4 linked regions of the Homo sapiens genome follow. The protein of the gene in region 4 purifies or fractionates together with the protein of the main gene of each other region. This does not show direct contact. Each region holds a gene or a part of one and is shown on either strand. Other genes may lie near its edges.

Region 1 (3,500 bases), on a different chromosome or scaffold from region 4:
CCCCATCTCTACTAAAAATACAAAAAATTAGATGGGTGTGGTGGCACGCGCCTGTAGTCCCAGCTACTCGGGAGGCTGAGACAGGAGAATCACTTGAACCTGGGAGGTGGAAGTTGCAGTGAGCCAAGATGGCGCCACTGCACTGCAGCCTGGGCGACAGAGTGAGACTGTCTCAAAAAAAAAAAAAAAAAGAGGTGGCACTTGAACTGGGGCTCAAAGAGTGATTTAAGGTGTCAGAAGGAGAGTAAGGTCATGATAATTTTGTGAAATGAAATAGGCTTTGGCAGGTTTATATCTTAGAGTGTGTGTAGTAGGGTGATCATTATAGTTGTGTAGTAACCTATTGTAATATTCTAATGGGAAGCTCAATATGTGGACTTAATTCCCTGAATGAGGCCACTGCTGAAAAACTTTGAGCCAGTGGTTTGATCATAGCTGTAACTTAGAGCAGAATATTGATGCCTATAGTTTTTTCCTTTTTTTTTTTCTTTTTTGTTAGATACCCAAGTTCTTCGATGGATCTAGGATGCCTTTAGTTTTGTTAGTATGTTAGACTTTTGGTAATACAAAATGTACAGTCTTTTAGGAAAACTGCAGCTTGTATTTTTCTTCTTACAGATAAGGCTCAATTACTTGAAATAGCCAAAGCTAATGCAGCTGCCATGTGTGCTAAGGCTGGTGTCCCTTTACCACCAAACCTAAAGCCTGCACCTCCACCTACTATAGAAGAGAAAGTTGCTAAAAAGTCAGGAGGAGCTACTATAGAAGAACTAACTGAGGTAAGCTAGACAGAATTTGTTTTCATTCTTAAATGGATTATTCCAGTGATGTTGACTCTGGAGCGTGCCAAAACCCGAATTGTGGGCAGAACTGATAATGGCTGGCACCGAGTGGCCAAAACCCGAAATACAGATGTGGCAGCGGCAGAAGCTCTGTTTAGCAGGCCATTATCCGGGATGGCTAAGCTCCGCTAGCTAAAAGTTACTTCCCATTACTTTTGCTTTCCAGTTTTAGAAGCCAAACTGACTGAGGAGTGGGACGGTTCGTTTGAATGGAGGAGGTGTTGAGTGAGCAACACGCAGAAGCTCGCCTACAGTTTCGTTTCCATTCACGACGCGTTCACTGATCGCCACGAGTATACTGCATATACGCAAAGACACAGACAATCTTCAGAAATGATCTTTTGCCACCGGAGCTTGGAAATTAATAAGAATAGCTGGCCATTGCCTGAAAGGAACTTCTTTCGCATCAACATTTCGGGTTTTGGCTGTTTGGTACCAGCCATTGGCGATAATGGCCGGCCATTATCAGTTCTTCCTGCGGTTCGGGTTTTGGCAGTAACATATATATTTTAAACACACTTATTTTTGTTTTTAAAAGTTTGATCTTTTCAATTGAGGCTTTTTTGGGGCTTTGTTTTATTACTATTTTTTTGGTGTGGGTGGATGGGGGGAGATGCTAAAATATTGCTGCTAGGATCCAGAAATACCACACTGTTTCATATATTGGAACTTGTTATTGGCTAGCCTTATGCCAGCCTGCCACTGTCAATATATTCTGTTCCCCTTGGTTACAAGCTTAATATACTCTTGTGTTTTTGGCGAAATGAGCTTTTTATCCTATTGTAATATTTTCAATTGATAATAGATGTCATTAAATCTACTGCTTGTATAGAGACAGGTGTACCCAAATTTACTCTTGACCTTTTTATAAAGCCAGGTAATGGAGTCTGTTCCTTTGCATCTCAGGAAGGAATTGACTTTGCTTTATGTATCAGACCTCATCAATTGCACCCTCTCCATCATGCCTTATTTTCCTAAGTTCTCCTTAAAGAAACTCAACCCACAAAACATTTATGGAGAGACATGTTGCTATCTAATCCTGTTGCAAATATTTCAGATCTTTTGTTTTGCCATACATCTGGGAAAATGTAAAGCTTCTGAATCTGTTTCCTCACTTAGATTTATTACAATATGAATTACAACTTTTTTTAAAAAATTAAGGACCTTGTAAACGCTTCTATTGCTTATTTACCTAATCCAAGCTCCTTATCCAAAATGCTAAGGACAGTTAGTATTTTGCTGTTTTCGGCCCCATCTTCAGCCTTCTTGTCCCAAGTTTCTTCTCACCTTTTTACCACCACCTGACTAGGATGACTTCTCCTTTCCCTACCAGTCTTTGTTCTTTACTATGAAAATCTGGCTTAGAACTCTTCAAGGAATATTCCTTGATTCTCTAACTCTGCCTGACTATTCTCTCTTAAGCCTTTGTTCTTTTAGCACTTATGTACTCAGTTTGTATTATATCAGTTTGCACTTGTTATTGTGTTGCTCTGTAAAAGTGTTCAATTATTTCATGTATATGTATTCCTTCTCTTGTACTAGATTGTAAGCTCCTTGAGAGCAGGGACCATGTCTTCTACTTTTTTTTTTTTTTTTTTTTTTTGTATTCCCCAGACAGTGCCCAGTACAGTGCTCTCTCTGCACATAGTAGGTGCTCAATAAATGTTGTTGACTGACTGACCAGCCAGAGTGTGTTTAAATAGTAGTTAATATGCCAAGTTACGTATCTATAACCTATCATGAATCTTGTTTAACTTTGGAAAGTTGCTATTATGTGGTTTTGATTCTAAGAAATTACATGTTCTACATAAAGCGTAAGATTTATCTTTTGTTTGTTTTTACTTTTAAAGAAATGTAAACAGATCGCACAGAGTAAAGAAGATGATGATGTAATAGTGAATAAACCTCATGTTTCGGATGAAGAGGAAGAAGAACCTCCTTTTTATCATCATCCCTTTAAACTCAGTGAACCCAAACCTATTTTTTTCAATCTGAATGTGAGTATTAGTGCTTATGGATTGGTAAAACAGTGTAACTTGTGGAACTATTTAAATAAAACCCAAATCGAATTTAGTTTATTAATTTTTGTTTTAAATACTGTGAGAAATAATGGATAATATCATTTCCTTCAGATTATGTAGAAAATCTCAAACCATTTAATGTAGATATCATATTGAGCTTTAATTAAGAAACACTTTATTTTTTAGATTGCTGCAGCAAAACCAACTCCACCAAAAAGCCAGGTAACATTAACAAAAGAATTCCCTGTATCATCTGGATCTCAACATCGGAAAAAAGAAGCGGATAGTGTTTATGGAGAATGGGTTCCTGTGGAGAAAAATGGTGAAGAAAACAAAGATGATGATAATGTTTTCAGCAGCAATTTGCCCTCAGAGGTAAGTAGGAGGAATATTATGTATTTTTCCTTTTTTATACCTGAATCTGCCATTTCATTGTTATGTTATGTCTGATTTGGATTCTGTTTCACTCTTCTTAGGGCCGGGTTAAACGGCAGGGCCGGGTTAGACGACAGATGAAACAACCCGCAGCTTCTCATTTGACAGTAACTCGATGCAATTCACTTTGTGGAACCAAGCCACAAAGTGAAAAGCATCGAATTGCAGAGAACAGTGTTATCACATCCCTACCCAACATTGG
Region 2 (3,500 bases), on a different chromosome or scaffold from region 4:
CCTAAAGACAAGAGAGCAGAGAAAGCAGAATGGTGTTTAGAGACCATCGCAGTGACCTGATCCTGAAAGCACCTGTAGGAAATTGGCCTCCGCCAAGTGAATGTGACAATGCAGTCAGCCACAGTGACGGAGTGCAAGATCGGATCACCACACAGATCCAAGAGACCGCTCACCACACCTGAGAAACAAGAACCCAAGACAGCCTCATGGAGGTGGAACCGTGCTACGCAGTTATGGCTTCACTACTGAATGCGATCTTGCAAAAGTGATTTAACCTCTGTGAGCCTCAGTTTCCTCATCTGTAAAATGAGTGAAGATTAAATAAGACAACACACAAAAGCCCTTCAAACATTTATACAGTAAATGTTAGTTTTCTTCTCCCTACTTAGAGGAGAGATAAGAAAGCGTTCTAATAGTAGAATCTGGAATTGAATAAAACCTTAAGAGACAAACCTTTTTTATTTTTTTTTTAAGACAGGTTCTTGCTCTGTTGCCCAGGCTAGAGTACAGTGGTGTGATCCAACCTCCACCTCCTGGGGCTCAAGTGATCCTTCCATCTCAGCTCCCCAACCCCAGTAGCTAGGACTACAGTTGCACATCATCATGCCTGGCTAATTTTTTTATTTTTGTAGAGGTAGGGTTTCGCTATGTTGCCCTGGCTGGTCTTGAACTCCTGGGCTCAAGTGATTCACCTGCCTCAGCCTCTCAAAGTGCTGGGATTATAGGCATGAGCCACTGTGTCCGACCCAAACCTACTAATGTTAATAGAAATTTGTTAACTGCCTTAGGTACAATAATGGGATTGTGGTTATAAGGGAGAATGCCTCTATTCTTCAGAGAGGCACACAGATTTACTTGCTTTTAAATGGTCTAGCAAAAATAAAAACAAATCCACTCATAAAACTAATATGACAAAGTAGATGGTTCTATAGGTGTTCAATGCATCATCCTTTCAATTTTCTAAATATTTGAAATTTTCTTAATAAAAAGATAGGGAAACAAAGGTGGCTTGGAGGAAACAAAAACAAAAACAAAAACAAAACAAGAAGATCCAGTCTAATGGAAAGATGCAATGGACTCAGGGATCCTGCAGCCAAAGGCTCTGCTTGACCAAGAGCCCCTGGCTGCGCTTAGAACTGCTTTTCCACACAGACATATGAATGAGACTGGCTGGGCCTGGTGGCTCATGTCTGTAATCCCAGTACTTCGGTAGGCCGAAGTGGGTGGTTCACCTGAGGTCAAGAGTACCAGACCAGCCTGACCAACATGGTGAAAGGCTGTTTCTACTAAAAAAAAAAAAAAAAAAAAAAAAAATTAGCAGGACATGGTAGTGTATGCCTGTAATCCCAGCTACCTGAGAGGCTGAGGCAGGAGAATCGCTTGAACCTGGGTGGCAGAGGTTGCGGGGAGCCAAGATTGCACCATCGCACTCCAGCCTGGGTGACAGAGTAAGACTCTGTTTCAAAAAAAAAAAAAAAAGAGACTGATGGCAAAGTGGGATGGGTCCAGGCCCGGATGAGGGAAAACTTCCTCTGCGTTTGCTGAAGCATAGGAACTATTCTAACAGGAAGAAAAGATACAGGGAAACCAGTATCAGGTACTTCCCAAATATCAAAAGCAAAGACGTAGCCATGGAACACTGCATATGCATGTGAGGAAGCACCGAGAGTCTGGGATTACTTGAGGACAGGATCAGATTGCAATGAGGGAGGCAGTGGCAGGAGGTGGGACATGAGATGCCCAAGAGGGTCGGGTCATGAAGAGCCTCAGGTGCACTGTTACAGAACCGGACCTTCAGAGCCATGGGAGCATTTTAAGCCAACAAGTGACATTATCAGATTTAGTTTTAAGATATCATCCTGGCTGCAGAACACAGAAAATATGTTAAACTACAAGAATGGGTGAGCTCTCCAAGGAAAGCATGTAGAAGAAAAGAACAGGTCAAAGACAGAGCCTTGGGCAACATCGACACACAAGGAGCTGGGCAGAGGAGTCAGGGAAGGAGATGAGAAAAGGACTAACCAGGAGGCCTGATGACCAGCATGGGTGGTGTCACAGAAGCCAGAGGAGGGTCAATGGGGGCAGAAGAAAAACAGCAGAACATGAAGGCAAGGGCTAAAAAGCATCACATATGTTATCCGTATTGAGGCGAATGGCCTCTCTTACTAGTTTCAACGGCATGGCAAGGGTGGGGGGCTGGATTCCAATGGGTTGTAGCAATAAATGATTGTGGGGTGGGGGGGTTTCAAGAAGTGCAGCCAGTGCGTATACATGCCACTGAAGTCACCTGGCTACAGAGGGAAGGACAGTGTGTCGTGCCAGAAGAGAATATGGAGTTAAGGGTTTTTTGAGTTGTTTGTTTGTTTGTTGAGACGGAGTCTTGCTCTGTTGCCCAGGCTGGAGTGCAGTGGCGCGATCTCGGCTCACTGCAAGCTCCACCTCCCGGGTTCACACCATTCTCCTGCCTCAGCCTCCCAAGTAGCTGGGACTACAGGCGTGAGCCACTGCACCTGGCCGAGTTTGTTTTTTTTTTTTGTTTTGGCTTTTTTTTGAGGTGGAGTCTCACTTTGTCACCCAGGCTGGAGTGCAGTAGTGCAATCTCGGCTCACTGCAACCTCCACCTCCCACGTTCAAGTGATTCTCCTGCCTCAGCCTCCTGAGTAGCTGGGATTATAGGTGTGCACCACCATGTCCGGCTGATTTTTGTGTTTTTAGGAGAGATGGGGTTTCACCACGTTGGCCAGGCTAGTCTCAAACTCCTGACCTCTGGTGATCCTCCCACCTTGGCCTCCCAAAGTGCTGGGATTACAAGCGTGAGCCACCACACCCAGCCTTGAGTTTGTTTTTTGCTTTGCTATAGATCTTAGAGAAACTGGTGCTTGTCTAGAGGGGGAGGCTGCAGATTTGAAGAGAGAGATGTAAATGATGAGGCAAAGTCCCAGAGGACATGTAAGGGAAGAGATTTGGCTTTAAACAGAAGGAAGGACCTTTGTTGCAGTCCGGAAGGATAAAAGCAGATGAAGATAACTTTTTAAGTGGAGGACAGGAAACTGACATAATCATATCTGATGAATTTAATATTCTCAATAAAACAGGAGACAAGACCTTCTGCTTAAATGAGGGGATGGGATTGGATAGCAAACTTAAAGAGAAGAGTAAAGTCTTAGAACAGCTTAAAGGGAGTGAGATGGAAAGGTAAATAAGAGGACTGTTGAACAACCTTGAAAGCACACCTGCAGTTGAAGACTGTACATCTGTTACATTTTTCTGGAAAACCCCACACATGTCTATTTCAACTTTCCTTTAATTCCAACTTTTCACGAAGAATTGAGAAAGGTGTAGTGGTTATTACTGTGTAGTTTCACTATTTTCTACATCTCCCAAATACCCACTTATAGAAGTAGAGAAAAGGAATTGTATAACAAGGGACTGGGACATTATAGCAGCGGGAAGTGGGCAAGGGGCTTTGGGGTGTTGGTAAGAGGTAACCAACCACACAC
Region 3 (3,500 bases), about 80 Mb from region 4:
TTAATCTTTTATTTCATTGTTTATATATATACACACACACACCACACACACACATATATGTACATATGTATGTGGCATTCATTCATTAATTCATTTATTTATTTATTTAGAGATAGGGTCTCACTCTGTTACCCAAACTGGAATGCAGTGTCATGATCATGGGTCACTGCAGCAGCCTTGACTTCTTAGGCCCAAACAATCCTCCTACTGAGTAACTGGGACTGCAGGCGTGTGCCATTCTGCGTGGCTAATTTTTTCATTTTTTATAGAGATAGGGATCCCCCTATGTTGCCCAGGCTGGTCTCAAACTGCTGAGCTCAAGTGATCCTCCCTCCTTGGCCTCCCAAAGTGTTTGAATTACAGGAGTGAGTCAGTGTGTCCAGCCCTATTTCTTTGTTAAATGTTTTCTTTGTTGAAATGCTTGTGATGTAGAAAAACGGTCAGTAGGAAATACAAAACCTCAGCCTTTATTTTACTTGAAAATAGTTCTTCTATTTAGAAATATTTAAGCCACATATTTGTATATATGGAACTTCTGTTTGGAATTCCAGCAGATCACTTCAGAAAAATAAAATGAGGAAGCTATGTCACGCATCAGCATTTAAATGCTGCTTTCTGCAGAAGCAATGTCTACCTTTGGTAGTTTTTCTCTTGCTATTCCTGAAATCACTTTATCTTGTGGCTGATCAAGAGTCAAATTATTCTTTCTTGTTTCACTGTCTTCAAGCAGAGGAACACAGCCATAATTGTTATCTGCAAGACAAAAACCTCTTGGACATTAGCAGAAAACCCTTATTTTTGGTACCACCTGAAAAAGCAAAAAATAATACAAACTCAAAACCATAAAGAGAATACATTTTAAGGTAGGAGTTTTAGAAAATTCTTTAGGTAATAGTTACTTTGACAAGTTGTCCATTTATATTTTTTCCTTCCCACTAAACAAACACACAAAACCCCTGCTCTCCAAAAGCCAGCAGTATGTAAAATATGCAGAATTTAGAAAACTAGAAATATGCTCTTTGCATCTGTCAGCAACAATTCAACTTTTATATTCACATTTTCAGGTATGCGTTTCTTATTTAAGATAATTATTTGTATTATGACTCCATGCTTATTATGGGAAAATTAGAAAATGCAGACAGCCAAAAAGAATAAAAAGTAAATGCTACCCAAATTTTTATCACCTGTGAATTATTCCAGTTAATATTTTGGTTTATATATTCTATCAGAATTCTTCTTTTCCTATACATATAACTTCACACAAGAATCACCTTTTTCTGCATAAATGAAAAAAACACTTATTTATGTATCCTGCTTTGTTCATTTTGCTATATATCGTCCACATATTCTTACAAGTTAATACCTATTATCATCACTTTTCTTGGCTACATAGCTATTCATATAGATCAGTGTAACTACTGAATATTTGTTTCTAGCTTTCCATGATTAGACATTATACTGTGATACACATCCTCGCATATATATTTTTGAGTACCTGAACAAATATTTTCTTATGATATAGTCTTAGGACTTGAGTTTTTGGTTCAAAAGGCATAGATGTTTTCAAAAGCTTTTGCTGCTATTTACTGGCAAATTGCTTTTTAGGAAGTTTTATAAACTTAGAGTTCTACCATATAGTATAGTATATGTGAAAGTCCACTTTCCCATATCCTGCAAGTGTTCATTTAAATAAACATAACATATAACTGTACCACAGTTATAATATCAAAACTATTGAGAAACAACGAAGGAATAAAATAGAAAAACTCAACTTACACCTTTCTTTTCACCAAGAGGTTCTAGAAATACATAAAAAATTAACATGAACATACCTTGAGTGGAATTCACAAGAAGTAACTGAGATTTTAGCTTGTCAATAATAGTCTGTTGAAGTGACAGCTGTTCCTGTTGTTCACGTATTCTCTGCTCATAGTTCTCAGTCTGCTGACATAAAAACCAGTTAGCCTGATATTCACTGATAGACATGAACATATATTTACCATCCATTGATAATATAAATAGATATGAGTTGCCCACATTGTCATTTTGCAGGTATTGTGATTTATGAGATACAAACTGGCTCCAGGAATGTACTTGTAATTGTTACAAACATCAGTGATTCAAGACACTTAAAGCACCGCAGAAGTTTTAAAGATTAACTTATTTAAAGACATTTCAGTCAAGGATTCAATCTATGATTTCCTGATCCTTCAGTAAGGATCAAAACTGTAATTTAGCATTTATTCCTTAATGGAAAAAAAAAAGCACAAATGATACAACAGATGCTATATTAAAGTGATTCTTTAAAAATACATACTAACTTAAAAAATTAAGATTTTGTGTCTTTCAAATAAACACACTTCTAAATTTATTTTTAGAGTACACAAACACTAAGGAAGTGTTGATACAAATCAAAGGGACAAATGCAAATTATAAAATTATACTGACCAGAAACTTCTCCACTAAGTTTTAAGAAATTAAGAGAATATAGTTGACCTTTGGTGTCTTAAATGCCAGTTTCCCTTATATTGTTAATCCATTAATTTTGCTATGTTATTGCAGTGACTGTGAGAATAAAGCAATGAAAAAAGACACAAGTTTGTACTGAGGAATACAGATGCTGCAAACATTCAAGCAAATTTGAAACTGTTGTATCACAATTACCAAATTAGTACAGTCTTAAAAGCGTATCACCAAACAATAGCAGAGAACTCTTTTTTTAACCAATTTCTATCCCTGGAGGGATAAATAAATAATGACTAAGTTGCAAATTCCTTGAAATATAAAATGAAAATGAAGTTCTAATAATCTCAGAATGATCTTCAGTAGATACTAGATATTTCACTTTAAACTGATTCTTAAAGTTCAAAATTAGTGAAGCTCTATTATTTTCAGAGACCAATAAACTTAAAAATTTTAATAAATTACATAGCTGTTCATAGATTAGCAAATATAAATTAGCTTAAGAAATTAAAGCTTGGGAGGCTGAGGTAGGTGGATCACGAGGTCAGGAGATTGAGACCATCCTGGTTAACACAGTGAAACCCCATCTCCACTAAAAATACAAAAAATTAGCCAGGCGTGGTGGCAGGCACCTGTAGTCCCAGCTACTTGGGAGGCTGAGGCAGGAGAATGATGTGAACCCGGGAGGCGGAGCTTGCAGTGAGCCAAGATCACACCACTGCACTCCAGCCTGGGCAACAGATCCAGACTCTGTCTCAAAAAAAAAAAAAAAAAAAAAAAAAGAAATTAGAGCTAAATACTACATTTTCCCAAATGAAAGGTGAACTTTTATAAGTAATACACTCCAAATATGAATAACTGACAAAGCTGATAAGCAACCCATGTGGTACATTGTCTTTGCACATTGCCTAAAGGCAGTCTTACATAGTTTCACATTCCCCACAGAATTCATATGGATTAAGTAACTTATACATAGGAGATGTTCAGTATATGTTCACTGAAAAATTAAAAAAGGAAATACGGATTCCAATTACATT
Region 4 (3,500 bases):
AAAAAAAGAAGAGACAAAAATATGAAAAATCTTTACTAGAAAGTAGGTGGCAAAGTAGTGGCTTCTGTTTTTCAGGAGCAATCTCTCCTTGTTTAAGATTAGTGATGGAGTTACTTCAAAATGCAAAATATTAATGAGGCTTAAGGAGGAACCTGTCATATTTAAGCTGACACAATGTTAGTAACTGCCTGTCTTCCAGGCTAAGGGACAACAGGGCCTACCTCTGACTTCTTGATATGTGCACATCACCTTACACGTGGTGCCCGAGAGCCCCGCCATCGCCATCCCCGCCCTGCATCTGCATCTGCATCTGCGCCTGCATCCTTGCAATCATCTCTTGCATGCGGCGGAGCTGTGAACACACACACACATTATAGGTTTTCAAGGTTTGCTGTCTTTGAACATTATTTCTGGGTGTTCTGTGATTCCTAAAATTTCAACTTCTACACCTTCCCAAAATATGACAGGAGTTATTACATAAAGACTTTTTACCAATCAATAAAAAAAGCAACAGCTAAAGAGAAAATCAAGTAAATGATACGAATATGCAAGCCAAACAGAAACAATAACCAAAGAAAGATAAGACAATATGATAAATTTTCTTAAGACAGAGTCTCACTCTGTCTCCTAGGCTGGAGTGCAGTGGCGCAATCTCGGCTCACTGCTACCTCCGCCTCCCGGGTTCAAGCGATTCTCCTGCCTCAGCCTCCTGAGTAGCTGGGATTACAGGCACACACCACCACGCCCAGCTGATTTTTGTATTTTCAGTAGAGACGGGGTTTCACCACATTGGTCAGGCTGGTCTCAAACTCCTGACCTCGTGATCCACCCGCCTCCGCCTCCCAAAGTGCTGGGATTACAAGCGTGAGCCACCGCGCCCGGCCAATATGAGAAGTTTTCTAACCTAAAAGGAGGGAAAGAGACTGATGACAGTGAGAAATGCAAAGTAAAGGGGAATGGGAATGAATCAGCTTTTCTGGAGGGCAATGAAGGCCTCACAATAAAAATAATATATATACATACATATACATATATATATATTTTTTTTTTTTTAAAGGGATGGGATCTTGCTCTTTCACCTAGGCTAGACTGCAGTGGCACAATCATAGCTCACTGCATCCTTGAACTCCTGGGCTCAGGGGATCCTTCTGCCTCAGCCTCCCGAGTAGCTGGGACTACAGGTGCATGCCGACATGCATGGCTAATTATTTTTTAATTTTTTTCTAGAGAACGAGGGGGGTCTCACTCTGTTGCCCTAGCTGGTCTTAAACTCCTGGCATGAAGTGATTCTCCCACCTTGGCCTCCTAAAGTGCTGGGACTATAAGTGTAACCCACAGTGCCTGGCCAAAAATAGTAAATGTTAATTCATCTTTATCCTTATCATTATGATTTGTATGTGTTCAGAAATGCCTCCAGGAAAGTATTATAAAACATTTAAATTTTCTTCAGGTGACTTTGTGGTTATTTTTAACATTTAAATATTTGATCAATATTGAATTAATTTGACCAAAGAAGTATTTTCTTTTTGTTTCCAAAAGGCTAGCCCATTATGATCCTATTGTTTACTGAATAATGTGTTTGCCTTCCAAAACTCCAGCAGATCTGAATGCCACCTTTACAACAGAGCATATTTCCATATTTATGATCTACTTACAAATATCAGTGACATTACTAAATTGTCTCCAAAGTCTTTCAGCTAAATATATGAAGCATCATGTATGCTATGTAAATATCCATGTTTATTATTATATATAGATGTGTATATATAGTAATAAAGTAGTTATATGTATCCTCCTCAACAAATTAAAAAAAAAACTATAAACTTTAAGTTAATTACCAATGATATCTACGGATGTAAACAAAACACCTTCAGTCACAAGAATAGTACTTTTTGGCTGGGCACGGTGGCTCACACCTGTAATCCCAGCACTTTGGGAGGCCAAGGTGGGCAGATCACCTGAGGTTAGGAGTTCGAGACCAGCCTGGCCAACATGATGAAACCCCGTCTCTACTAAAAATACAAAAACAACTAGCCAGGCATGGTGGCGGGCACCTGTAGTCCCAGCTACTCGGGAGGCTGAGGCAGGAGAATCACTTGAACCCGGGAGGCAGAGGTTGCAGTGAGCCGAGATCACGCCACTGCACTCCAGCCTGGGCAATGGTGCAAAACTCTGTCTCAAAACAAACAAAACAACCAACCAACCAACCAACCAATAGTACTTTCCTACTTACCTCAGCTTCTTTTTCCAGCAAGATCTGGTCTTTATTCATGTCCTCATTCTCCACTTTCCTAAGAATCGAAAGAAATCAGAATCATAACACTGCAACAAATAGTTATTTGCTACCCCCCCAAAAAATTCTACTTTAAAATTTAAAATGACATGTATTTATCATTTCTCTTTTTATATTGAGATGGTGTCTCACTCTGTCGCACGGGCTGGAGTGTAGTGGCATGATCTTGGCTCACTGCAACCTCCACCTCCTAGGTTCAAGCAATTCTCCCACCTTAGCCTCCTGGGTAACTGGCATTACAGGCACGTGCTACCACGCCCAGCTAATTTTTTTTGTGTTTAGTAGAGATGGGGTTTTGCCACGTTGGCCAGGCTGGTGTTGAACCTCAAGTGATCCGCCCACCTTGGCCTCCCAAAGTGCTGGGAATACAGGCATGAGCCACCACGCCCAGCCTATCATTTTTCTAATTAAAGATATAATGAATAAAAAGGGAACAGAATGATTTTAAAAAGTTCGAACAACATGAAATGGAACATTCAAGAGACTTTTCTTACTCTAAGCTTGAGCGACAACACTTGCTGTTACCCACTCAAAAATAGGTATTATCTGAAGAATTTGCTTTGAGATGTTATTCTTTATTAATGCGAATGTAGTCACCACATTTAAGGAGCAGGATCTGCGTGAGTGAACGAGGGGCAAAGGGTAAGCTCCCCAAGCACACCTGAGAACTGTGCTCTGCAAAGCACACTAATCTCCATCTCAGGGCCAGCGCCTACTCAGCTTCCAGAGGGTGGAATTTTCTTGCTGCCTCTAAAATCTTTCTTAATGTCTCATTTCCAAACTCATAATTAGACTTCAATGTGTACAACATATGTATCTAGAAATCCATCAAATTATTAGAATGTGAGAATTTTAATGAATTACAACACAGGAAACTTTTGTTGTTGAGACAGGGTCTCACTCTGTTGCCCAGTCTGGAGCGTGGTGGTGCGACCATAGCTCACTGCAGCCTGGACCTACTGGGCTCAAGGAATCCTCCCCCTAGTAGCTGGGACCACAGGCATGCACCACCACATCTGGCTAATTTAAAAAAAATTTTTATAGAGGCGAGGTCTCCCTATGTTGCCAGGGCCGGTCTCAAACTACTGGGTTCAAGTGATCCACTTGCCTTGGCCTCCCAGAAAACTTATATAAAAACATATTAGAATGGTTAAAAAGAAAAGGTGAGTGAGGATGGCTGCAGGACTTTGCGAGGATCGAAGCTGCT

The links.
Region 1: the proteins of SEPTIN2 (region 4) and SON fractionate together in Homo sapiens (co-fractionation; one large-scale study listed by BioGRID). This does not show direct contact.
Region 2: the proteins of SEPTIN2 (region 4) and RNPEP purify together in Homo sapiens (affinity purification with mass spectrometry; one large-scale study listed by BioGRID and IntAct). This does not show direct contact.
Region 3: the proteins of SEPTIN2 (region 4) and TANK purify together in Homo sapiens (affinity purification with mass spectrometry; one large-scale study listed by BioGRID and IntAct). This does not show direct contact.

What each region holds. Positions count from the first base shown.
Region 1 is NC_000021.9:33,556,538-33,560,037, forward strand, and holds part of SON (protein SON), read left to right. Parts: intron 1-618; coding exon 619-779; intron 780-1,008; coding exon of another isoform or gene 1,009-1,014; exon of another isoform or gene 1,015-2,529; intron 2,530-2,692; coding exon 2,693-2,839; intron 2,840-3,049; coding exon 3,050-3,238; intron 3,239-3,339; coding exon of another isoform or gene 3,340-3,500. UniProt on the Homo sapiens protein: RNA-binding protein that acts as a mRNA splicing cofactor by promoting efficient splicing of transcripts that possess weak splice sites.
Region 2 is NC_000001.11:201,992,648-201,996,147, reverse strand, and holds part of RNPEP (aminopeptidase B), read right to left. Parts: intron 2-3,500; coding exon 1-1. UniProt on the Homo sapiens protein: Exopeptidase which selectively removes arginine and/or lysine residues from the N-terminus of several peptide substrates including Arg(0)-Leu-enkephalin, Arg(0)-Met-enkephalin and Arg(-1)-Lys(0)-somatostatin-14.
Region 3 is NC_000002.12:161,201,928-161,205,427, reverse strand, and holds part of TANK (TRAF family member-associated NF-kappa-B activator), read right to left. Parts: intron 1,942-3,500; coding exon 1,833-1,941; intron 754-1,832; coding exon 635-753; coding exon of another isoform or gene 602-634; exon of another isoform or gene 452-601; intron 1-451.
Region 4 is NC_000002.12:241,346,925-241,350,424, reverse strand, and holds part of SEPTIN2 (septin-2), read right to left. Parts: intron 2,292-3,500; coding exon 2,234-2,291; intron 353-2,233; coding exon 251-352; 3' UTR 222-250; intron 1-221.